Regions from separate parts of the Homo sapiens genome. Here region 2 is linked to region 1. Evidence: fine-mapped expression QTL. A gene starts in region 1. The other region holds a variant in brackets. All regions are shown on one strand. Distances are between the middles of the regions.

What was found.
Region 2: its variant is fine-mapped to the expression of TP73 in whole blood (TOPMed, PIP above 0.99). The same link has a PIP of 0.9 or more in blood mononuclear cells.

The regions. Positions count from the first base shown.
Region 1 is chr1:3,646,236-3,658,056 of GRCh38, forward strand. TP73 (tumor protein p73) reads left to right here and starts at 6,281. Exons shown (of 14, transcript NM_005427.4): 1 at 6,281-6,406. It overlaps WRAP73 (WD repeat containing, antisense to TP73), which reads right to left and starts at 3,868. Exons shown (of 12, transcript NM_017818.4): 1 at 3,696-3,868; 2 at 1,173-1,325; 3 at 431-547. The coding sequence starts at 3,764. RefSeq lists enhancers at 4,089-4,932, 10,734-10,813, 10,894-10,993 and a silencer at 5,892-6,841.
Region 2 is chr1:3,671,258-3,683,078 of GRCh38, forward strand. TP73 (tumor protein p73) reads left to right here. Exons shown (of 14, transcript NM_005427.4): 2 at 11,076-11,173; 3 at 11,803-11,821. The coding sequence starts at 11,109. Among named protein-coding and RNA genes, the nearest start is that of TP73-AS3, 8.2 kb to the left of the region's middle. RefSeq lists enhancers at 2,452-2,671, 9,432-10,167 and a silencer at 8,975-9,142. The variant G/A (reference allele first, on the strand shown) is at 8,115.

The sequences.
Region 1 (11,821 bases):
CAATCTGGATACGCCAAAGAGAAGCCACAAAGTGCTTCCTTTAAATGACGAGCTGAAAGTTCTTGACGCAACAAGGAAAGAAAAAATCCTATGCTGAGGTTGTTGCTCAGATCTTCAGTAAGACCAAATCTTCTATCCATGCAATTATAAACAGTATATTGTTATCCTTGTTCTATACTATGATTGTTGCTAATCTCTTACTGTATCTAATTTATAAATTAAATGTATCACAGGTATGCTGTATAGGAAAAAACACAGGAAATACAGGGTTTGGTACAATCTGAATCCCCTGGTGGTCTTAGAATGCATCCCCTGAGGATAAGGGGAGACTAGCATACTCCAAACACACCCCCTCTCGCACTCCCCAGCTGTTTCGAGAGCAGAGGACAGGATCACATGGCCAGTAAGGTGTCTTGGGGCTGACACTTACATGGAATTCCGTGGTGTTGAGAATGTGGCGCCCGTCCGGGCTCCAGCACGAGGCCACCAGCCCGGCTGAGCCCTCGTCTATTTTGCAGTGCCATTCGGGCTGCTCTAAAGACCAGACCTGGATTGAGAGAAGAAAGAAACACACAAGTGCAAACTCATCAGCACCGAGAGACAGCGAGGACAGCTCGCTTAAACGCAGCGGAGACCCGACCGCACAGGGTGTCTTCAAACTCATCAGCAGTCTATAGCGAGGCCTCGCCGAGAGACAACTCCCTTAAAACCAGCAGAGACCCGATCACACAGGGTGTCTTTTAGAACCTTTCATGATGAAGGGCTGGTGCTGGATTCCAGTGTAAAAGTAAGCCACGCTTCTTGGTGATTTCATTTCGTTGTTGTTTTAAAACTGTTTATTCACATTGTCATTCCTAAGACCTCATTTAGTTAAGCTTTGGACACAGAAGAAAACACGACTTCTTAGGACTTCCTGAAACACACCACATCCGCGTGGCTAGATTGCTGTCAACACCTCCGTTTCTCAACTATATTGCTTAGAAATTAAGACTACGTTGGAGTTTCCTTAGTTTAAATGTTCTTAAACTTTAGAGAACGTTATAATTTCAAAAGAAAACTGGCTTTGAGCTGCACGGACTTTTTTTTCAAACTAGAAAGGCACAGAACAAAACCCCTCCTTCCCAGGGGCCCTCAGAAGGTGTCCAGATTCTAAGCGACACGGCAGCACACACCTGCACCAGCCCTCGCTTGTACATGGCGCACAGGATGAAGAGCGAGTCTGCCGACCACTCGATGTGCTGGATCTGGTCTAGGCACGTGTACAGCTGAAGGATCTGAAGGGTGTTCACATCCCGGACCACTAACCGGTACTGGACACAGGAAGCCTAAAAAATATGAGAAAGCAAGCACCTGACATTCTCCACTCCAAAAGAGGGGGGCCTTCGGAATGCTACTGCCCTGGCCTTCAGTGACTGTGGCCTTCTCTCCTGCCAGAGGTTTCATGTCTAGATCACCAGTGACATCCCCAGCCCCTAAAGATCAGTTCAGTTCATACAAGGGTAATGTTGAAATATACAAGCCAGGTTTTAATATTGCTATACTCTATTGTAAAGTATAAAAGTATGTTTTAACTCGCTACTTAAAGCTTTAAGACATTTTTAAGTCCCTTCTTATCTGTATGTTAAAAACTAAACTTAAATGGGAAGTAGCATTGGGAGAAAGCTCTTCTGTGAACTAATAACCAAAATCCTCTGCTAGTTTTATAAACACTTTTGGACAATTTCCTCAAATTTATAAAGGGTAAGAATTGAGGCTTCACAGATGACAACGAAAATGGCAAGGAATGCATCAATCTTCTTATGCAGTGCCGAACTCAGAGCCAAAACAACAGAAGATCAAAAGACAGGCTTTCACTTCTGCACACATAAAGATGCTTCGCAAATGCTCATTTATCTCCATTAACCTATTCCTAACACGAAACGGGAAATGTTTAAGTGTTAGTACTATTTTCTTAAAGATAGTTTCTTCTTGTCCATATTTGTTCATTATGTCCCTATCCAAGCAAACAATTTCAAGTAAAAATAACGCCTGAGTACTCACCTGCTGAATGTATATTTTACTACAGTTTCAAGATCAAGAACTGATGTTTAAATATTAACTGCTTCGTTAGTTTTACTTATCAAGGTCAAAGTAGTTTGTGTTTTATGAACCGATATCAAAAAAGAAAGCCACGTTAGTTTTCCGTGGGAGAAAAGAGAGACAGGCGGGTGACGGCAGATTGGAACAAGGAGCTACCACAGCACTTACTTTCTCACACTGTAGCTTTGAAAACTGTGATCAGTTACAGTGAATTCCTTATGAAATGGAATATTTTTACCAACACCTTGAGGAACCACATAAACTCTACTGCAAGATATGAAAACTAGAAACATGGACCTGCTCTCCCCAGTCCTCAGGGCTTTCAAGAAGATGATTCCAGTAACAGATCATTACCAAGTGTTTCAGGGTATTTTGACCAGAGTGTACAAGCTGGAAAAAAACACCCAAGTTAAGCAAGCAGATGTAATCTTTCTCCTTATAATTCACTGAAATTTTCATAAATGGTAAAAACAAAAAACAAACCTCTCATTTAATTGAGGAGGGGGGCACATTGAAAATATACCAAGGCTGAGATGCCATTTAAACTAATGAGGTTTTCTGTTTTGTAGCTGATGCTATTTTATGTGATTTGGAATAAAACCTCCCTGAAGAGGTAAAAAACGTAATTTGAGAGTTAAACTCTCAAAAGCTAGACAGAGCACAGGAATGTCAGGAGTGGCAAAACCTGAAAAAGCATCATGATACATCAGTCAGTTAGTACAGGTGGTGGATAAGGAAAACGAAGCCCACTTTTTACGAGGCATGTTTCTTCTTAGTGGCTTTCCAATGCCAATTGTCCCCCTCTTCTGAGGACATACATACTAGGCATCCGGGTTATCCCTCTCTTCTGAGGATATACACTACTAGGCATCCAGGTACATACACTATATGTTTTGAAGCTTAAAGTTATAGCTCTGTGATTTAAGCACCCTTCTGCCACCCATGGAACGAAGACCTCAAATCCCAGCCATGAGGACAACTACTTCCTTACCTGGGGATAGAATACTAGTATTTAAATCATTTATTCGGCATGTGGTAGAGGAGAAGAGAATTAGAGGAGAAGTAGAGATGACAAAGTAGCCACACCACTTACCAGTTTACAGGCAACAGAATCATCAATTTGCCTTTTGTGACAAAGTAACAACAAAGAGCCGACATCTCCTATACCCTCACCTGTGTGCAGTCGGCACTGCCGATACCCACCTTTCCAAGGGCACCTCCCCAGACCCCCCACCTGTCTACGGTATCTTCCTGGGTCCCGCACCTGCCCGGGCACCTGCCGGGGTCCTGCACCTGTCCGGCCCCCATATCTGCTTGGGGTACCTGCCTGGGCCCCGCACCTGCTTGGGGTACCTGCCTGGGCCCCGCACCTGCTTGGGGCACCTCCCCGGGCCCTCCACCTGTCTAGGGTATCTTCCTGGGTCCCGCACCTGTCTGGGGCACTTGCTCAGACACTGCACCTGCCCCGGGTACCTGCCCGGGCCCCGCACCTGTCCGGGCACCGCACCTGCAGGATCCCCAAGCTGCCTCCACCCACGCGGCCGCCCCCGGCCCTGCCCGCCGGGGACGCTGGCACCGAGGATGTCCTGCCCGTGGCCCAGGTCCCCGCCGCTCACCAGGTACTTGCCGTCCGGGGAGAACTTGCAGAGTAAGCTGGAGAGCTTGAATACCTCGGAGAAGTTCATGGCCGCCGCCTGCCGCGGGCGCCACCCTGCGCCCGAAAACCCGCGGGACCCCTGGGCGCGCAGCAGGCTGCAACAGCCGACGCCGGCCTCCGAGGCCGGAAGTCAGAAGGCGGAAGTGAACTGCAGCCTATCAGCGCCGCCGGCTTCCGCGCGGCATTGTGGGGCTTGTAGTTCTTGTGCCGCAGGGCTTTAAAGGAAACGCCCACGTTTCTTCCGACCAGGGATTTCCGACCCGAGAACCTTACCTCAAAGGCCGGGAGGCCTTTGAGCACCTCCAGCTAGGGCTGCTGATAAAAATGTAGAAAGCACAGTAAAATTTGAATTTCAGATTCACAACAAATCTAGTTATAAGTATGTTCCCAAATATTGCACGGGACATGCTAATACGGAAAAATTACTCGCTAGTCTGAAATTCAAATTTAATTGAGCGACCTGTGTGTCTGCGTGTGTGTACACATGCATATATATATATTTATATTTATATGTAAATGTATGTTTACATGTAAATATATGTTTACCTACAAATATATCTTTAATAAGTAATACGGTGTCTGTCGCACATATATTATATCGTGTATGTAATGTATAAGTATTTATTTCGTTTGCTTGGGGTTTTGTTTGCTTTTGCTGAGTCCGACCCCTCTACCTGCCGCCTGGCCCTTGCCTCACGCTCCAGTGCCACTGAGATCAAGGAGAGAACGAATTTGCCGCTGACTGGGCAGAGCGAGCGCGTGGATCGCGGCCACCGCCCGTTCATCACCCGCGCGCATCTGGGCTGGCACCGGGCGAAGAATCGTGCGGGTCTGGGACCTGGGGGCCCAGAGGGAGCGAGCTCCTGCGCGGGCGCTCGGTCCGCAGGTTTCGCAGGCTCAGGGGCGTGCCTCGTTCTCACCCCCACTCCGGACCCCGGTCCTCTTCCCTAGACAGCGGCCCCCTCCACCCCTGGCTCCCGCAGGCCGCTAGTAGTCCGCGCCAGGCCCCGCCGGCGCCTCTAGGGCCCCCCAGATCGCGCAGACCCTGACATCCCCGCCTGGCCCTGGGTTCTGGGAGCTGAGAGCCGGCCAGGGTCCTGCTCGTACCTCCGGGCGCCCAGCCTCGGGTCTGCTCCCCGCGGACGCCCCAACCTCCCCGGCCGAATGGATGGTGGTGCGCGCGCGTCCTACTCCGGCGGTGCCGGCCTTTTCTGTTGCCAAAACTAGACCCAAACCTCTGCATGGGATTCGTCTTTGGGTCCCCACCCCGTGCGCCCAGCAAACAGTGGGTGAGCCATGAAGATGTGCGAGTCAGCCGGACCCTCCCCGTCAGGCGCGGACCCGCTGCGGCCAGAGAACCCAGTCTGCGCCAGCCCGGCTCGCTCGCGAAGCCACGGGCTTCACTGACGCGACTTTCCAAGACGTGGGGGTCACCATGGGCAGAGGACATCGGTTCGGAGCCAGATCACGGGCCCCATAAGCATCAGACCATAAGCAGCGCCGCCACTGAGAGCCGCTCGGAACTCGCCCAGCATGTCGGGTCCCCTAGCCAGGGCCTGGTGTACGTGGTCGAGGGCCCTGGAAGCCCCGATGGCCTAGGAGGAGCAGGCGGGCGGGGCGGCGGGTGTCGCTGGCCGGTAGAGAGCTTCGGCCTGACCTAGCGCAGGTCTGGTGCGCGCAGAGAACAACTCCAAGCGCACCGACGCCCGCGAGCTCCTTCCAAACACCGAACGGGATCCAGAGCCCGAGCCCACAGGCGGCGGCCGGGGGAGGGAGCAGGGTGCTGGCCGCCGCCCGGGAGTGTTCGCGTCCTGGGTGACCCCTGGAAGGACGTGGGGCCCAAACTCCGGCTGGGGTTGGGAGAGCAGCCCCCAGAGGCTCTCCGCGGGATCCTCTGCCGGGCGGGACCGTGGCTCCACAGGAGAAGTGGGTGGCAAGCCCTGCTTGGCGGAAAGCAGCCGTTCCCCTCCTCCTGGGCCTGGGGCGGCGCCCCTCACCCCTGTTCCCCGCCCCTCACCCCTGTTCCCCGCCGGCCACATCCCCTGCCCCTTGGATTCCAAGCGCCCCGCGCGCCGAGGAGCCCAGCGCTAGTGGCGGCGGCCAGGAGAGACCCGGGTGTCAGGAAAGATGGGCCGTCTGGGGGACAGCAGGGAGTCCGGGGGAAACGCAGGCGTCGGGCACAGAGTCGGCACCGGCGTCCCCAGCTCTGCCGAAGATCGCGGTCGGGTCTGGCCCGCGGGAGGGGCCCTGGCGCCGGACCTGCTTCGGCCCTGCGTGGGCGGCCTCGCCGGGCTCTGCAGGAGCGACGCGCGCCAAAAGGCGGCGGGAAGGAGGCGGGGCAGAGCGCGCCCGGGACCCCGACTTGGACGCGGCCAGCTGGAGAGGCGGAGCGCCGGGAGGAGACCTTGGCCCCGCCGCGACTCGGTGGCCCGCGCTGCCTTCCCGCGCGCCGGGCTAAAAAGGCGCTAACGCCCGCGGCCGCCTACTCCCCGCGGCGCCTCCCCTCCCCGCGCCCATATAACCCGCCTAGGGGCCGGGCAGCCCGCCCTGCCTCCCCGCCCGCGCACCCGCCCGGAGGCTCGCGCGCCCGCGAAGGGGACGCAGCGAAACCGGGGCCCGCGCCAGGCCAGCCGGGACGGACGCCGATGCCCGGGGCTGCGACGGCTGCAGGTAGGAGGCCCAGGGCCGGGGGGCGGTTCGGCTCCGCGGGCGGGGGCTGGAGCGCAGCGCTGGGCAGGCACCTGGGCTCGCAGCTCCGAAGCTGGGAGGTGAGGGGAGAGCGATCGGGGACGAGCTGGGACAAGGCGACACAGGGGCTCCCTCGGAGTTGGATCGGCCCCTGGGACTTGGCGCTCGCGAGAGGCTGGAGCGGCCAGAGTCTAGCCTGCGAGGAGACGCGGGTCCTGCCCTCAGCGCCGGCCGCCTTTGGCGCCAAAGACAGCCCCGCAGGGGTTCCGGGAGGGCCCTCCTCCTGCTGTCCCCTCTCCACCCCGGGCTCCGAGGGCCGTTGGGAGGGTAACCCCGGGAAGAGGCCGGGGTGCGGGGCGCGGGTGCAGGTGGAAATCGCCAGCAAGCTCCTCCCCGCCCGCGCGCTCCCTCCGACCTGCAGGGCTGTGCCAATCCCGAGGCCTCAGCTTCCCTGAGGAGCCAGGGCCAGGCCCCCCTCTGGACAGGGAGAAGGATCTGGGCGGGGGCCTTGACCCATGGAGTTGGTTACTAAGCGGTTTCGATGGTTTCCCGAGGGACAGCTCCCTGTGGCTCTGAGTTTGTCTGTCGAGGGCTCCTGGCCTGTCTCCGGAGCGGTCCCAGGTAGAGAAAGCCCGTGAAGAAATGGCCCGGGCCGGCCTGGAGGGAGACACCTCACGCCCCCTTAGCTCCTGGGCCGCCTCCTCCTGCAGCCCCTGCCTTTCCCGGGGCTTGGACTTGGGGAGCGATGATTACCTTTGCTCAGCTTGTATTTTGGCCTGGACGCTAGGAGATAAGCCCATGTAGTATGCACACGTCTGCTACATAAACAGGGGACAGATAGACGATCTTCAACCAGCAAGGGTGCAGGGAAAAGCAATGCACCCCAAACTTCTGACCAGAGGTCATTTGCTTCCAAAGATGCTGCCATCTGTTTATTCACTGTCTGGACATTTGGAAATGGCTCAGGCTCATTAACACAATGCTTTGGTTTTTGTTGTTTTGTTTTTTGTTGCTGTCATTGCTGTTTATTTGTTCAGCCTTAGCTCTGGGGGAGGAGTAAACAAAGCGCGTGGCCTCTGGCACTTACTGAGCGCTGAGCCACCCCTCTTTGGATTTATTCGGGGAAAGATTAAAAAGCATTTCATTAAGAACAGGACACGGTGTTTGAAATGTTGCCATATATGAATGTATGCATTACGTATGTAGTTTTTAAAATAAGATAAAAAGTTGGCTGGGCACGGTAGCTCACGCCTGTCATCCCTCACAGCCTTTGGGAGGCCAAGGTGGGTGGATCACCTGAGGTCAGGAGTTCGAGACCAGCCTGGCCATCATGGTGAAACCCAGTCTCTACTTGAAATACAAAAATTAGCTGGGCATGGTGGCAGGCACCTGTACTCCCAGCTACTCGGGAGGCTGAGGCACAAGAATTGCTTGAACCTGGGATGGAGAGGTTGCAGCGAGCTGATATCATGCCACTGCACTCCAGCCTGGGCAACAGAGCAAGACTCTGTCTCAAAAAATAAGATGAAATAAGATAAAAGTTGGTGTCAGAGGCTGCAGTGTGGCAGCTGCCTATTGTCAATCAGAGGTAGCCTGGGGTGAACGGAAGGCGGACCTGAGCGGGGCTTGTCTATGCGCGGCGGCCACCAGAGAATGGCTCGGGATGTGAGCCCTGCCTTGCAGTCCTTCTCGTGAAAGCTACAGCGAACAGTAGCTGTCTCCAAATCCCGAAGGCCAGTCGCATGGAGAAGCTGGTCTGGCACAGTGGTTAATGGGGTAGTATGGAAGTCAGAATGCTGGGGTTCAAATCTCCTCTTCCCCATTTACTCCAGCAAGTCACTTAACCACTTGGAGCCTCAGGTTACCCATCTGCAGAGTCGGGTAATAGTAGTTCCTGCCTCAGAGGCTTGGAGAACAGTCAGTGAGGTGCCGTCCGAAGGGCTTGGGAGAGTGCCTGGCACCCACTCAGTGTCCTCACACATGATGGCTTCGGGTCCCAGGTGCTGTTCCAGAGCTGGGAGAGCCAGGAGCCCTGGGGAGAGACCCGGCTCCTTAGTATCTGGTAGGTATCTCCAGGGCAGGAGGGATGGCAGTGAGGCAGGCATCTGCCCAAGGCGTGGGTGGAAGCTGATGGCATCTGTCAGAAGTATGCACTGGGGCAAGGATGCCTGGTTTAGTATTTATTTATAGGGCATGCCCCACCCAGGTCCAAGAATGGATTGATAACACTGAGCACGTGTGAAAGGCACGGCTAAAGTGGAGAGAAGAGAAGAGGCTGAGGGCCGAGAGAGGAGCCGCACACCCACTCCAGAACCCGGACGAGGCCCTGCCCTTGCCCAGCGGCGGTATTAACCCTGAGATTCCGAGCACACCAAAGTGACATCGCGTACACGGTGAACCCTGTGTTTGCAAAAAGTCAGAAAAAGTCTTCAAAACATCCTTTAAGGCCAGGCGCCGTGGCCCACGCCTGTAATCTCAGCCCTTTGGGAGGCCGAGGTGGGTGGATCACTTGAGATCAGGAGTTCAAGACCAGCCTGGGCAAAATGGTGAAATCTTGTCCCCACCAAAAATACAAAAATTAGCCGGGGGTGGTGTCTGGTGCCTGTAGTCTCAGCTACTCAGGAGGCTGAGGCAGGAGAATCGCTTGAACTTGGGAGGCAGAGGTTGCAGTGAGCCGAGATCACCCCACTGCACTCCAGCCCGGGCAACAGAGCGAGACTCTGTCTCAAAAAAACACGCAAAAAATACTTTTGGTGTGTGTTTCATGTAACGAGCTGCCATTTTGCGGCTTGCCTTTGTTTTCCAGTGTGGGGAGGGCTAAGGCAACCTTTTAAGATATCTGTATGTTATTTCCTCGTGATTTTGCTTTAAAAGCAAAAAAGAAAAAAGCTGAGATGAGTTACTAAATGACAATAACGCCTACTTTTCTTTTGAATTCCCGTGTTATTTGTATCTGAATGTGGTGAAAGTTTTCTAAATGTAATGTTTTATCACCAGTAAGTAGGCTGAGTGATCACTTACTCCTACCAGTATTTAATACTTCCATGTTCTGCCCAGATTCCTTTAACAAATACACAAAACACACTTGTAGCTGGCAACATCCACTCGTGTATAATGAAAACACACAATGGCTTTCTTAGAAGTTTGCCTTCTTAAGTGGGTTACACAGGATGCCTCGAAAATCCTTCTCTGTGGGTCGTGCAGAAGGTATTTTATTCTAAAAATTCCCTCTACTCAGCCGGGCGCAGTGGCTCACGCCTGTAATCCCAGCATTTTGGGAGGCTGAGGCGGGTGGATCACGAGGTCAGGAGATCAAGACCATCCTGGCTAACACGGTGAAACCCCGTCTCTACTAAAAATACAAAAAATTAGTCGGGCGTGGTGCGGGCACCTGTAGTCCCAGCTACCCAGGAGGCTGAGGCAGGAGAATGGCGTGAACCCGGAAGGCGGAGCTTGCAGTGAGCTGAGATCACGCACTACACTCCAGCCTGGGCGACAGAGCGAGACTACGTCTCAAAAAAAAAAAAAAAAAATCCCTCTGCTCATTGGCATTTGAGTGTAAGACAGCTTATACCAAAGTGGGCTCAGACAGACATATGCACATGTTTACAGACTTTCTGCCTGCCCCCTGGCAGTCCACTCTGTGCTCAGTATTTCTTTGCAGGCTAAACACTCGCTCATCCAAAGTGCTTTCTTTTCCTGGACAAGTTGCACATCACAGACCCAAAGAAGAAAAAGATAATCCAGCCCAACTCTTGTTTTTTAATGTTTCCTGTAATAACTCACATTTAGCCCATGGTGGCTGTGAGCTGGTACTTGGCTAAAAAGTTTACATTTTTTTCCCTGTAATCCCCACAATAGCCCGTTGAAGTAGATACTATAATTATGCCCATTTACAGATGAGGAAACTGAGGCTTCAACTGGCTATTCTACTTGCACAGGGTCACACAGCTGCAAAGTACGGGAGTGGGGACTCCAGCTATGACCACGAAGCTGGGACTGGGGCTGCCAAACCATCCTTTGCCTGGGTCTGCCGTTGGCTCAGACACGGCCCCCAGACACCTAGGACCGTGGAACATTCAGGCCGGAAGGGCCCTTCCAGAACATCTAAGCCAGGGGTAGAGAGTCCAGGGTGCTGTGAGCCTGGATGGGGAAAAATGGCACCTTGTATTAACCTCAAAGCAAATTTCAGCATTTCCTCTAGTTTTGAATGTAGGCAGCAAACTACAGTCATAGCAGTACCTGTGACCTCACCAGTGGGAACCACTGATATTTTCATGGTGTCCGGTAATAGCTGCAGCATCTTAAAAAGTGGTTTGTGCTTGTCGCTCCGTTGCAATTATGGCGGTGATTAGATCTGCTCTCAGGCTTACGACTTAATGTATGAACAAAGAAGCGCACATATGATCACCTCCCAGTTTTGCTTTTTAAATATTAGGGTCACTTTGTAAGTTTTCTCAGGCTGCTGTTACAAATGACCACAAATTAAGTGGCTGGAAACAATAGAGAGTGTTGTCTCACGGTTGTGGAGGCAGGAATCTGAAGCCAGGTGTGGGCAGGGTCGGGTTCCCTCGGAGGCTCTGAGAGGGGGCTCGCCTCCTGTCTCCCTCCTAGGATCTGGGGGCTGCCGGCCATCCTGTGGTTCCCAGGCATGCAGATGCACCACCCAGTCTCTGCCACCATCTTGCCATGGCCTTCTCCTCTGTGTCCCTGTGTGTCTCTCCTTTTTTGTCCCTTAGATGGACACCTGTCCTTGGATTTCGGGCCCACCTGGAAAATCCAGAATGATCTTATCTTGAGACCCTTACCTAAGTGGCATCTGCAAAGACCCTGATTCCAAATAACATCCCATTCTGAGGCTCGTTCCCAGAGGCTGCATCCAACCCACTAGAGTGGCTATGTTTCAGTAACTCGTGATCCTGTGTATTTTGCTTCATGTATTTAAAACATTCTCCCGGACAAGGCGTCTGAGATTCCCCAGGCTGCCAGAGGGGCCATGGCGCAAACGGGGAAGAAACCTGGTCTAAGCCACGCCCCTCTTTTCAGGACGAGGATCTTGGAACCCGGACACTGAAGGTCGGGGTTGGGCACAGCCGGGGATGGGCAGCCCCCCTCTCCCCCAGCACCTCCCGCCTGGCGCCTCCTCCACAGCCCCTGCATCCTGGAAAACAGACTGTTCCACACACTCCAGCAGCTCCTCTACCTGGGGACTGCTTGGGCCGCATAGCCCCCAGTTAGGGACAGAAACCAGAGGTATTGAACAAGAAGCCCCACCGGGAGAGGCGAGACCCGGGCCCCAGCCCTGGACCTGGCCGTGGGTGCTACAGAAGGTCGGGGGACATCGGTCTGCGCGGAAGGGTCTGGAGAGGCACCTCTCAGGGAGTTGGACAGAGAGGA
Region 2 (11,821 bases), 25 kb after region 1:
AGCAGCCCCCTCAGACCTGGAGTAGCATGGAGCCTAGGATCCATTGTGACCTTGGTGGTCCTGTACCCTGTCCAGCTCCAGTTGCTGTTCCTGCCTCTCCCTGACCTACTGGCTGCCCAGGCTGCCCCTTGGCCGAGCTCCACCATGGCCAGTGCCCCTCCATTCGCTTGTGAGTCCCACAAGATCACAGCCCTGCCCAGGGCCTAGGCAGCTCTTGGGCTGACCCAGCCATCGTCGGGAGCCCCCTTCGTGACGGGGGCAAAGGCTGGATCGTTGTCTGCCCTGCAGGAGCCGGGGCCTCCAGAGGACGGGCTGCCTGGCGGGAAGGTGGAGCTCACCGGAGCCCAGCCTAAGCCAGCTGTGGTGCTTCTGAGATGTGCGGCCCTGGGCAGGCTGCTCGCCCTCTCGGGGCCTCTGGGAACACCTGGGGACTTCCCGCTGGGTTCCTCTGAGGATTGAATGAGCTTGAAAATATGGAGGATTTGGCACAGGGAATGCTGGGCAGCAATATCAGAAAGGCAACCCTGAGAGCCAGCGGACAGCCACTCTGAGGAACAGCAGTGGCTGCCTCTGGAAGGAGTGAGGGGTGGGTGGACCCCCGTGATCGCTGCACGGGGGAGGTCACGGGGCTGAGCGGCCACCACTGTGCAGGGGAGGTCACAGGGCTGAGCGGCTGACTCCAGAACAGGAAGGGAACACGCCAGGAGGGAGGATTGCTCACTGAGTCAGGGCGGGACTCAGAGGGACGCATGACAAGTTCAGGGAGTTGACAGCTGTCTGGAAGGGCACGTCTGCTCAGACCGCAGGGTAGGGAGTGGTCAGCAGGGAGACATGTCCACTGGTGCAGCGGGCGTGTCCCAGACCCCTTAGAGAAAAGCCCAGAGCCAGGGGTGAGGGGTATGTGTAGGGTGGGGACATCTCAGAGTGGAGCATCCCCACCAAGGGTGTCCAGAGGAGGGTGGCCAGGTGGGGACAGCAGCTTGAGAAGGGTCATTCTCTCTTGGTTGGAGGAGTGGAAGTGCTTCTCTGGGGAAAGAAAGAAGATTCTGGAGGACAGCACAGGCACTTCCAACATGGGCGCTGGCCGCACAAAGGCTAGTGACACCCGGTGTGATCCCTTGGGGTAGAAAGGGGGTGTGAGAGGAGGATCGGAGGGGGCAGAGGACAGGGATGTGTCTGTGCAGAACGAGGCTGTGGCAGCTCCAGCGAAGGCGGCTGCGGCCCCATCAGTCACCTGCCCTGCTGAGGGCAGCGCTGTACTCATCACCTGTGAACACAGGTATCGACTCAGACACCCACTCTGGCCATAAGCTCCGCTCTGTCCCAGCCCTGGACCCCTCACCCCCTATCCTTGGCAGTCGGTCCTCTGGGTCTTCTTCCTGTGCCCACTGTGCTGGTCTGAACCTCCCTTAGTGACAGATCTGCTCCTACCACCCCCGCCAGGGTCGCCCTTCCTCTAACAGGTGGGCTCCTGGCAGGAAACATCACCAAGCTCAGCGCCCCAGTTCCCTGACAGGGCCCCACTTCCCTCCTGCCGCCAACCTCGTCCCCCCAAGGGCCATGTCCCTGCCCACCCCTTCCACCCCTTTCTTAGAGGAAGCTCAGCCCATCAGGCCGCTCATGCTTCTGACCCCACCTCCAAACCCTCCTGACCCGCTTACCCCCAGGAGCACCGCCCACTCCAAGGCGCAAGCAAGCTGGGGCTGGGGTGCAGACTTCTCTTCCACCACCCACCCTCCTCATACCCAGCCTCTGAGGGCCTCACAGACATACATGATTTGCCTCCAGTGGGCCAGGGTTATCTGTTTACCGCGTTGCATGCCCCCGGGCATGGAGCTGGCACCGGCTGCCGCTGCAACTGGGCACTACCCGTTTCGAGGACGCCTCATTCCCTGAGAGACTGAGGATAGGCTGGTGCTCTGCAAAAGGGTGCGGAGACCACTGTAAAAGTGGGGTGAGACACGCGTGCTGACCATGAAATGGAGAGGCACTCGAAGGAGCCAGGGACCCGGCAGCCAGCAGACCCCACCTTTCCGCCCCCGTGTGTGCAGTTCTGTCGCTCAGCCTGGTGCCTTTGGGACCCGGGCCTCATTGGTTCTTCCTCCACTGCCACCACCTGATACTAAATAACCGTCGGTCAATGGCAACTCGATACGGTTTATGGGGCATCCACGGTGTGCCCAGATAGAGGAGTGCTTTCGCTTTTGATATGCGTAGAGTTACTTCATTCCACCTAGCGCTTCTAGGAGGCACTACAATTATCTCCATTTTACAGACAAGGAAACAGAGGCTCAGAATGGGCAAGACATCTATCTGAGGTCACACAGCTAGAGCGCGGCAGAGGTGGGCTGCGTGGGCAGAGCAGGAGAGGGAACTGGAGTGTGTGCCCGGCAGTGCTGGGCTTCAGGGCACGAAGCGGTGGGGCAGGAATCATGTGTCTTGGTATGACCCAAACACATATATGACAGCAAGAAGGCCTGGGCAGGCAGCAGAGGACAAGGCGGGCCTCTTGGATGTCTGGATGTGGATTGGGCCTCAATGTACCGGTGAAGATAGATGGACAGGCAGGGGATTTCCAGAGAGGGGCTTCCCAGGCAGGGTGCGGGGTGTGGCTGTGCGGTGGGAACACGGACTGGGGAGGGGATTGCAGCCGGGCCCGTGCCTCCCTTGCTCAGCTCCAGGTCAGGCCAGGGTAGAGCCAGGCTGCTGGGTTCGACCTCCACCCTGACCAGCTGTGTGCCCATGGAGGGCTGGTCTTCCCTCTCTGTGCATGTCTCCTGGTTGGTAACAGGTGTGTGGCCTCACTGGGCCGTCGTGGGGTGGCTGGAATCCCCGGGAATTAGCCATGCTTTGGTGTTTCTACATTTCACTTGGCTGAGTGTGAACTGACCCAGGAAGCTGGTTGGGGGCACCCCCACCCACGGGGGGTCGGGCATTTTGGTTTGGTCATGGCCTCAAAGCTTCTGGGGTGAGGCTCAGGGATTCCCCCAGACTGTCCTGGGCATCTGCCTCCCCTCCCCTCCCGCTTCCCGTGGGCCACGGCCCAGGAGAGAGAGGGCAGCTTGCTCAGGCACCTCCAGCTGTCCGCATATTTCACACGGTGCACGCTACCCCACCGTGGGAGGCTGTGTTTGTCTTTCATCCCCATGCTGGGCTTCCCCAAACTAGGGGAGTGGGGCAGCAGGCGTGCCATCTGTGGCGGTGAGGGGGGCTCTCAGCCGCATCCTCCTCACCAGGCCCTGCGGACAGGCCTTCGTCCCTGCCCCTGACCTGCTGACGAAGCCGTCCTGGCAACCCTGTCTGAAGGACCTGGCCCCATCGTACCCACAGAGGGAGGCCACATGGTCCTTAGCCTCTGTCGGGAGGGGCAGGCAATGCTGGCAGAGGGCCTTGCCCCTGAGAGGGAGGCCCTCCTGGCCCTCACTCCGGGGGACCCCTGTCCTTGGCCCCAGCCTGCCAAGCGAGAGCGGCCCCTCTTCTTGCGGTGGCTGGAGGGGAGAGTGAGGCCCCTTGGCACAGAGGGCCCCAGGAGGCTGGGCTCTGATGACGCCCTGCAGGAATTCCGCTGGGCTGCTGCCTGGGAGAGCCGCTGTCTCACACAGGGCCAGCCTGCCTGGCTTCATTCTGGTGCGCTGACCGCCCGACCCCTCTGCCCAGGCGGGGGCTCTTCTGGGTTCTGGGTCCTGGGACCTGCCTGAGTCCCTGGGAAAAGGGCACAAGGGGATTGAGACGGTCTCCTCCCACAATGGCCCAGGTGTCTCCTCCCACAATGGCCCAGGTGTCTCCTCCCACAATGGCCCAGGTGTCTCCTCCCACAATGGCCCAGGTGTCTCCTCCCACAATGGCCCAGGTGTCTCCTCCCACAATGGCCCAGGTGTCTCCTCCCACAATGGCCCAGGTGTCTCCTCCCACAATGGCCCAGGTGTCTCCTCCCACAATGGCCCAGGTGTCTCCTCCCACAATGGCCCAGGTGTCTCCTCCCACAATGGCCCAGGTGTCTCCTCCCACAATGGCCCAGGTGTCTCCTCCCACAATGGCCCAGGTGTCTCCTCCCACAATGGCCCAGGTGTCTCCTCCCACAATGGCCCCAGGTTTCTTTGCCACTTCAGATTGGAATCGTTGATCTGCTGAAATAACAGGTAAAATCATTGGTGGTTTGGGAACCACCGGAATCAGAAGTGCATTGAGATGTTTGCTTTAGGGGTGGCCCGGGGCGGGTGGAGTTCCTGGGGGCTTTTCCCTCCTCCCTGAATGGAGGAGGACACCCTGCACCCCTCCTGTGATCCCCCTTAAGAGCCAGTGTCCGGGATGGCTGGGCCAGACGGGGCAGAGGGGCCTGTGTCTCCTGCCCAGGCTGAGTGCGGACGGCTCGGTCTCAGAGCTCCACCGAGGGGTGGGTAGGTAACAGCAGCCCTGCGGCCAGGGCCCCTGCAGGTGGGAGTGGGTGTCCCCATGGGGAGTGCCTCTTCCAGAGTGGGCTCAGTCGGGGTGGAGTGTCCTGGCTTATCAAAGGTGGTTGTGGAGCCCTGTCTGCCCCAGGCCTGGGCAGAGGTGGAAGGGGTTGGGGAACTGACGAGGCCTTACCTGTGGGCCCATGGCCAAGGAAATGTCTGGTCTCCCACCTCCTGTCAGGTGGTGAGGGGAGAGGATGGGGCGTCAGCCGGAGACGGGGTTCCTAGAGGAGGCTGGGTCCTGGCCTGGCCTGGAGAGATAGGGATGAGATGGGAGGGCAGGAAGGGGGTGGTAGACAAAGGCTGAACACAGAGAGCACATAGCCAGGCATGTGGGGACTGGGGACAGGGGACAAGGAGGGCACCCATGGGGACAAGAGATAGGGAGAGGACAGAGGGACAGGAGACGGGGAGGGACAGAGGATGGGGGACAAGGAGGGGACAGGAGGACGGGGACAGGGAGGGGACACAGAAACAGGAGCTAGGACGGGGACAGAGGATGGGAGAAGGAGAGGTCAAAGGGACAGGGAACAGGGAGGGGACCCATGGGGATAGGGCAGGGATCTATGGGGACAAGGGACAGGGAGGGGACAGAGAAACAGGAGATGGGGAGGGGACAGAGGGATGCAGACAGGGAGGGGATAGAAGATGGGGGGCTAGGGGACAAAGGGAAAGGGGACAGGGAAGGAACCTATGGGGGACAGGGAGACAGGGGGACAGGGAGAGGACAGAGGAACAGGGGACAGGGAGGGGATGCTTGGGGACAGGGAGGGAATGCTTGGGACAGGGCAGGGGGACAGGGGGCTGTGGCTTTCGTGGGAAGCTATGGAAGACGAGGCCAGAGGGGTTGGGCAGGGTGAGATGAGAGAGGCTGAGAGCCCCTCACCGGCTGCGGACTCCTCCCCACAGGGCAGAGGGGAGCATTCGGGTGCGGCCAGGCCATCAGAGGACCTGGGCTTGGCTGGAGTCCCAGCTCCTCAGCCCTCAGTAGCTTTGGGCCAGCCACTGGGCCTCCTGGCCTCCACTTGCTCATCTCTGAACTGGGGCAGGGTTGGCGTGTGAGCCTGAGGCCCTGCAAAGTGCCTGGCCAGCCTCAGCTCGGAGCCATGGCACAGCACCCCCTCTCCGCCACGGCCCCGACAGCTGGGCGTGCGTTCTGCTGTGGGCAGCTGCCCTGAGCAACGTAGGGTGCTAAGCAGCATCCCTGTCTTGCACACTAGATTCCACAGCACCCTCTGACCCCGTGGAAAATGTCCCCACATGGGAATATCCTCTGGGGGTGGAACTGCCCCTGGTGAGAACCCCTAGGCTGAGACCTCAGAAGGCCCTGAGTCAAACCGAGAAGTCATCAGAGAGCCTTGTTTTCAGCTCCAGGGAGCTTGGGCAGGCTGGTTTTCTGGGCCACACAGTCCCCTCCCCAGCCCACCTGTGCTCCGTGGGTCCCGGGGAAGCTGTGGGGGCCTAATTGCTGGTGTGAGTTCCTTTCCTGTTCTGAGTCACACGTGTGTGGGGGCTCTCCCTGTGGTGCAGCTGGTACAGCGGCCCCTGGAGTTGAGGATCCAAGCAGGCTGAGGTCTGGGTTTGCCGGAGGGCCCTCGGTGGCTGGTCTTTGTCCTGCTCCCACTGCTGTGGGCACTGTAGGACTTGGAACGCTGGTCACCTTTCCAGCCTGGCAAAGGGAGGGGACTTGTCTGAGGCCTCATGGAAGTTGGGGCAGGGTCGAGGTGCCCTGCTTCCTGGGTGTGCCAGCAGCCTACAGCCTGGCTACAGCGTAACCAGGAACACCCAGCACAACTGTCCTTTGCAACTCTGTGCCCTGACTTGATGGTGCCAGGGCTGGGGGGGTGCCGGCCAGCAGCTCCCCAATGACCACCCCCAAATGCTGTGGCCACACAAAGCCTTCCACTGCAAGACCTGTGGTAATACACACTGGACGCCCCTGTTACAACTGAGAACTCATTTATTTCATTTCCTTCCTTCCCTTTTTTTTTTTTTTTTTTTTAGAGTTGTGGTCTAGCTCTGTTGCCCAGACTGGAGTGCAGTGGTGCAATCATGGCTCACTGCAGCCTCGAGCCCCTGGGCTCAAGTGATTCTCCCACCTCAGCACCCTGCGTGGTTTGGACTGCAGGCACATGCCATCACGCCCTCATGCCCAGCTAATATTTTTTTAAGTTTTTGGAGAGCTGAGGTCTCCCTGTGTTGCCCAGGCTGGTCTCAAGCCCTTGGGCTCAAGTAATCCTCCCTCCTTGGCCTCCTAAAGTGTTGGGATTACAGTTATGAACCACTGCACCCAGCCCATCCCTCCTAGACTAAATCTTCTTAGAAAAACCTACACTTCCAATAATGTATTTGCATTTTATGATGTTGATAAAACTTCCTAAAGATGTCTTATGAAATTGGTCTCCTTTCCCCATTGATACACATGATTTTTAAAACTATTGGCAACGTTTCAAAAGCAATTTCTGTTTTGTCCCAGAACCGTGATCCCCTTGTGAACGAATTTTCAAATTAAAAGGCAAATGGTTGGGAAAATTGGATTTAATTGAAAGGCCATTTTATTAGAATTGACTTATTTTTCTCGCCACTGGGATCCTTGCCTGAAAGGCGGCTGTGGGCAGAGGGCACATACTCCCCCTGCCCCAGCGCAGCGTCCCTGCACCCCCAACAGAGCTTCCTGTTCCTCATGCCCAGTACTCCCAGATGCCTGCGGAGCCAGTCATCAGCTCAGGTGTGTGAGGCCGGTTGGGGGAGCCCCTGCCTGGCGCCTGTGCCTGTGAGCAGTGTTCCTGTGGGGCCCTGGGACCAATGCTACCAGCGTTGGCGTTTTCCCAGGAAGTTGGGAATCAGGCATCTCGTGGCTTCCGGTTCAAGTTCCTCCGTGTGCTTTAAGTCTGGGCAGGTTTCCGGGTCCTGGTTTTGGCTAATGAGGAACCCGATTCCCATGGGGGAGGCCGGTGGCTGCAGCAGGGCCCCGAGCAGTGGCAAGGCTGGCCCTCATGACAGTGTCCTCCTCAGGGGGCCTGTCCCAGGCTCTTCATGACTCCCCTGGAGGCTTGTTAAAGGGGCAGATTCCTGGGCCCTGCCCCAGCCCCACTGTGGGGAGGGGTGTCCTGGAAGATGCATCTGCCCAGGGCTTCCGGCTGGTCCACACGCCTGCACCTGGAGGCCCACTGCCCACATCTCAGGCAAACAGGCCTGGGGATGTTTGGGGACCCAACTCCTGGCGTGGAGGAAGCCCCTTTCCCACCCCACATGCTCCTGGTGGTGGCCTGTCCTGTGAGCCTGGAGGGCCGGACGGGTGGGATCGGGGACCCACGACCACGCTCGCTGGCCTCTGTCCTGTGCCCAGGCAGGGATGAGAGGCCAAGCTGGTGTCCTGCAGTGCACAGTGGGTGCCGGTCAGGGGATGTGGAAGCTGGGTCTCCGGCAGGCAGAGGCGCGCTGACAAGAAGGGTCGCTGTTCCTCATTCAGGGTTCAGTGGGAAGAGAGGGTGTCGCTTCAGGGGGAGTTCACAGGATGCCGACTTGAAAATACAGCCAACGCCCATGTCCCAGGCATAAGATCACAAATCATGTTTTGCCGACCAGTTCCTGTGAGCCCTGAGCCCTGCGCGGAGGGATGCCCCGTGCACACCTGTTCACGGAACCCCTGGACCTCCAGTA[G/A]GGGTGCGGCGGGATGCCGTCGGCTCCCACGCTGTCTGTCTCCCTGTCCCTCTCTCTTTCCCTCTGTTTCTCTGTCTGTCTCTGTCTGTCTCTGTCTCCCTGTCTCTCTCCATCTCTCTCTGTCTCTCTCCCTGTCTCTCTGTCTCTGTCTCTCTCCATCTCTCTGTCTCTCTTTGTCCTTGTCTCTCCCTGTCTCTGTCTCTCTCACTCTCTGTCTCTCTTTGTCCTTGTCTCTCTGTTTTGTCTCTCTTTGTCCCTGTCTCTCTGTCTCTGTCTCTCTCTCTCTTTGTCCTTGTATCTCTCTGTCTCTCTTTGTCCCTGTCTCTCTCTGCCTTTGTCTCTCTCCGTCTCTCTTTGTCCCTGTCTCTCTCTGCCTTTGTCTCTCTCCGTCTCTCTTTGTCCTTGTCTCTCTGTTTTGTCTCTCTTTGTCCCTGTCTCTCTGTCTCTGTCTCTGTCTCTCTTTGTCCTTGTATCTCTCTGTCTCTCTTTGTCCCTGTCTCTCTCTGCCTTTGTCTCTCTCCGTCTCTCTGTCTCTCTTCCTGTCTCTCTCTATCTCTTTCCCTGTCTCTTTCTGTCTCTCTTTGTCTCTCTCTTTGTCCCTGTCTCTCTGTCTCTCTTCCTGTCTTTCTCTTTCTTTGTCCTTGTCTCTCTCTCTCTGTCTCTCTCTTCCTGTCTCTATCCCTGTCTCTATGTCTCTGTCTCTCTTTGTCCTTGTTTCTCTCTGTCTCTCTGTCTCTGTCTCTCTCTGTCTTTGTCCCACCTTAGCCTTGGGAGGGGACAGCTCACAGGCTGACAGATGAGGTCATGTGTCCTGAGCATGAGGTTTTCAGGTCTCACCCACGCTGTAGCATGTCAGAGCTTCGTTCCTTTTCATGGCCGCGTAATGTTCCATTGCTTGCTGGCACCACATCTCCTGTGCCCGGCCCTCTGCTGATGGGCGTCTGGGCTATGTGCACCGTTCAGCTACCAGGAATGGTGCTGCTGTGAAGGGAGCTGGGATTTTGTCATCCACCTGCTGTGGATGGCAAGTCCATTTCCATCTCTGGACTCAGGTGGCCCATCTACAAAATGAAGGGGATGCGACCCAGAGGCCTCTGGCGGCAAAACCTTCCCAGGCTTGTCCTCTTGGATCTAAGGGAATTTCTTTCCTCCGAGTCCAGCCCCTCCAGTGCTCCTGCCCTTCAGGAAACATGCCTGGGACCCCTCACTTGTGCCCACCCAGCCTTGGCCCACATACCTGCACCAAGAGGCTACCCTACTCATACTGCTCAGCCCAAAGGGACCCACCGTGGGGTATGGGCAAGGGCGGGTTCTGCTCTCCCCCGGGGCCCTGTGCCAGCCTCAGCTGGACCTGCGGTTCTGCTTCCTGTCACACTCTCCCATTTTAAATTAACGGAATGGTGCGGTCCCCATGCACACCCTCAGCTCCACTGGGGTTTTAGCCCAGCCCAGGATCGGAGGCCTGCAAGGGCACACCCACCTGGCCACGTGATGGTGAAGTGGGGTGGGGCAGGGCAACCAAATTAACTTCTAATTCTAAGAGCCCCTGGAGCATTCATCACCAGCACTTACAGCCGTGTGACCTCACACAAGTCACTTAACCCCTCTGAGCCTTGGGGCTCCTGAAAAGTGGATGGAGCGGTCACGCCCACCTGGGAGAGGTGGCTTGGGCCAGCACCCTCTAAGCTGCTTGTCCCAGGCCATCATGGCTCACGGACCGCCCCTCAGCCTGGCCTGTGCCACTTCTCCAGGGCCCGGCACGTGGCAGCCACAGGCTTCTATCAGCTCCCGCCTGCCTGGGGAAGGACAAAAACGACAGGTTCCAGGCCATGGCCTGCACCCCCGCTGGCCGTGGGCAGGTCCAGGCCTGCCTGCCTGAGCATTGCAGGGCGGTGGCCAAGCCTGTCCCATAGCACCTCACCGAGGACCTGGGAGGCTGGCCCAGGGGAGAGGTCACCTCAGCCGGGGCTGGGGGCTGTGGGCAGGGTGGGCTCGGGTTTCCCTGTCCCCTCCCCCAGCTGTGCTCTGCCTGGACACTGCCACCTCCTCATGGGTGTCCAGGGCCACTGGGAGCTGGGCCCAGGGGTTCTCAGGGGAGCAATGGTGGAGACAAAGACCAGCGGACGGGCGCTGGGGTCAGAGCTCTCCAATCCCTGGGTGTCTCCTTCTCAAGGCGTGACCACCCAGGCAGTGGCCGGCTGCAGGACAGGGCAGCTTCAAGTTCCCAGCCTTGCCAGGCTTCCCTGTGGCCCTGGGGTGCAGGAAGGAGCCCCAGCTCAGAAGGCGAGGGGGCGTCTGTGTCCTGCAGCAGTGGGCACAGCTAGGCTCTAGCCGGGGGCTTGGCTGCAGCCTCCAGCGCAGCCCTCACACACGCTGTTCCCAAGATGGGGTGACCGGGACCGGAGCCACCTCCAGGTCCCGGGCATCAGGGAGACCCCAAACCTGGCTGCATCCCCCAGGCCAAACCCAGACACAGGGGATCGTAACAGACCACAGGCCTCACACACTTGTTCCGGCCCAAGCATCCCCCAGGCCAAACCTAGACACAGTGGATCATAACAGACCACAGGCCTCACACGCTTGTCCCGGCCCAAGCATCTCAAAGAGTCTGCTCTCCTGAAGGCCCTCAAGGCAGCCCCAGGAGCGGGTGTTGCTGTCACCCCCTCTTCCAAGGCGACGGCTCTGAGAAGCTCCTGCCTGCCCAGGGCACCCCCACGGATGGGTCTGATCCAGGCCCGCCACCTCCAAGGCAGAGCTGCCCACCTGGCCTTCGGTTTCCAGCCGCGGGGAACAGGGTGGACGAAATGACAGTGGAGAGGGCACAGGGAGGGCAAGGCGGGGGCACCTGCTCCAGGGATGCCCCAGGCAGGCCCACTTGCCTGCCGCCCCCACCGAGGCTGTCACAGGAGGACAGAGCACGAGTTCCCAGGGTGCTCAGGTGTCATTCCTTCCTTCCTGCAGAGCGAGCTGCCCTCGGAGGCCGGCGTGGGGAAGATGGCCCAGTCCACCGCCACCTCCCCTGATGGGGGCACCACGTTTGAGCACCTCTGGAGCTCTCTGTGAGTGCGCTTGGCTGGCCAGAGCTGGGGGCCCCCCTGGGAGGCACTCTGGGCTAGCCTCAGCCACCTTCGCTGGGCTAACTGGGCCAGAGCAGGAGGGGTGGCCCCGGGAGGACTCTGGGCTAGCCCCAGCCACCCTCACTGAGACTTTGGGCTAAACTTGGCAACCCTCACTGGGATTCTGGGCTAGCCTCGACCACCCTTGCTGCACTAACTGGACCAGAGCAGGAGAGGTGGCTCCACACTAGTCTTGGGCTAGCCTTAGCCACCCTCATCAGCTTGGGGACAGGGCGGGTCGGAGGGGCAGGGAAGAGGGACTGCTGCCCTAGGCCTTCCCTGGGGATGCAGGACCAAAATTCAGACTCTTTTCTCTGGCCAGCTCTGGAGAGGGCCCATGGCCAGCAGAGGCCCAGAATAACAGAGCCCATGACTGGCTCTGCCTCTCTGGCACTCACAGCAGCCCTGGAATGGCAGGTGGAGGACAGAGATGGGATGAGAGGGAATGGGAAGGGCAGGAGACGTAGGCCTCACCAGGAGTCTCAGGCTAGCCTTGAGCTCTGGGCCTGGGAGGTATTGGGGTGACACCCAAACTGGGGACTGACGCTTCTATTTTCCTCTCCCTGCCCCAGGGAACCAGACAGCACCTAC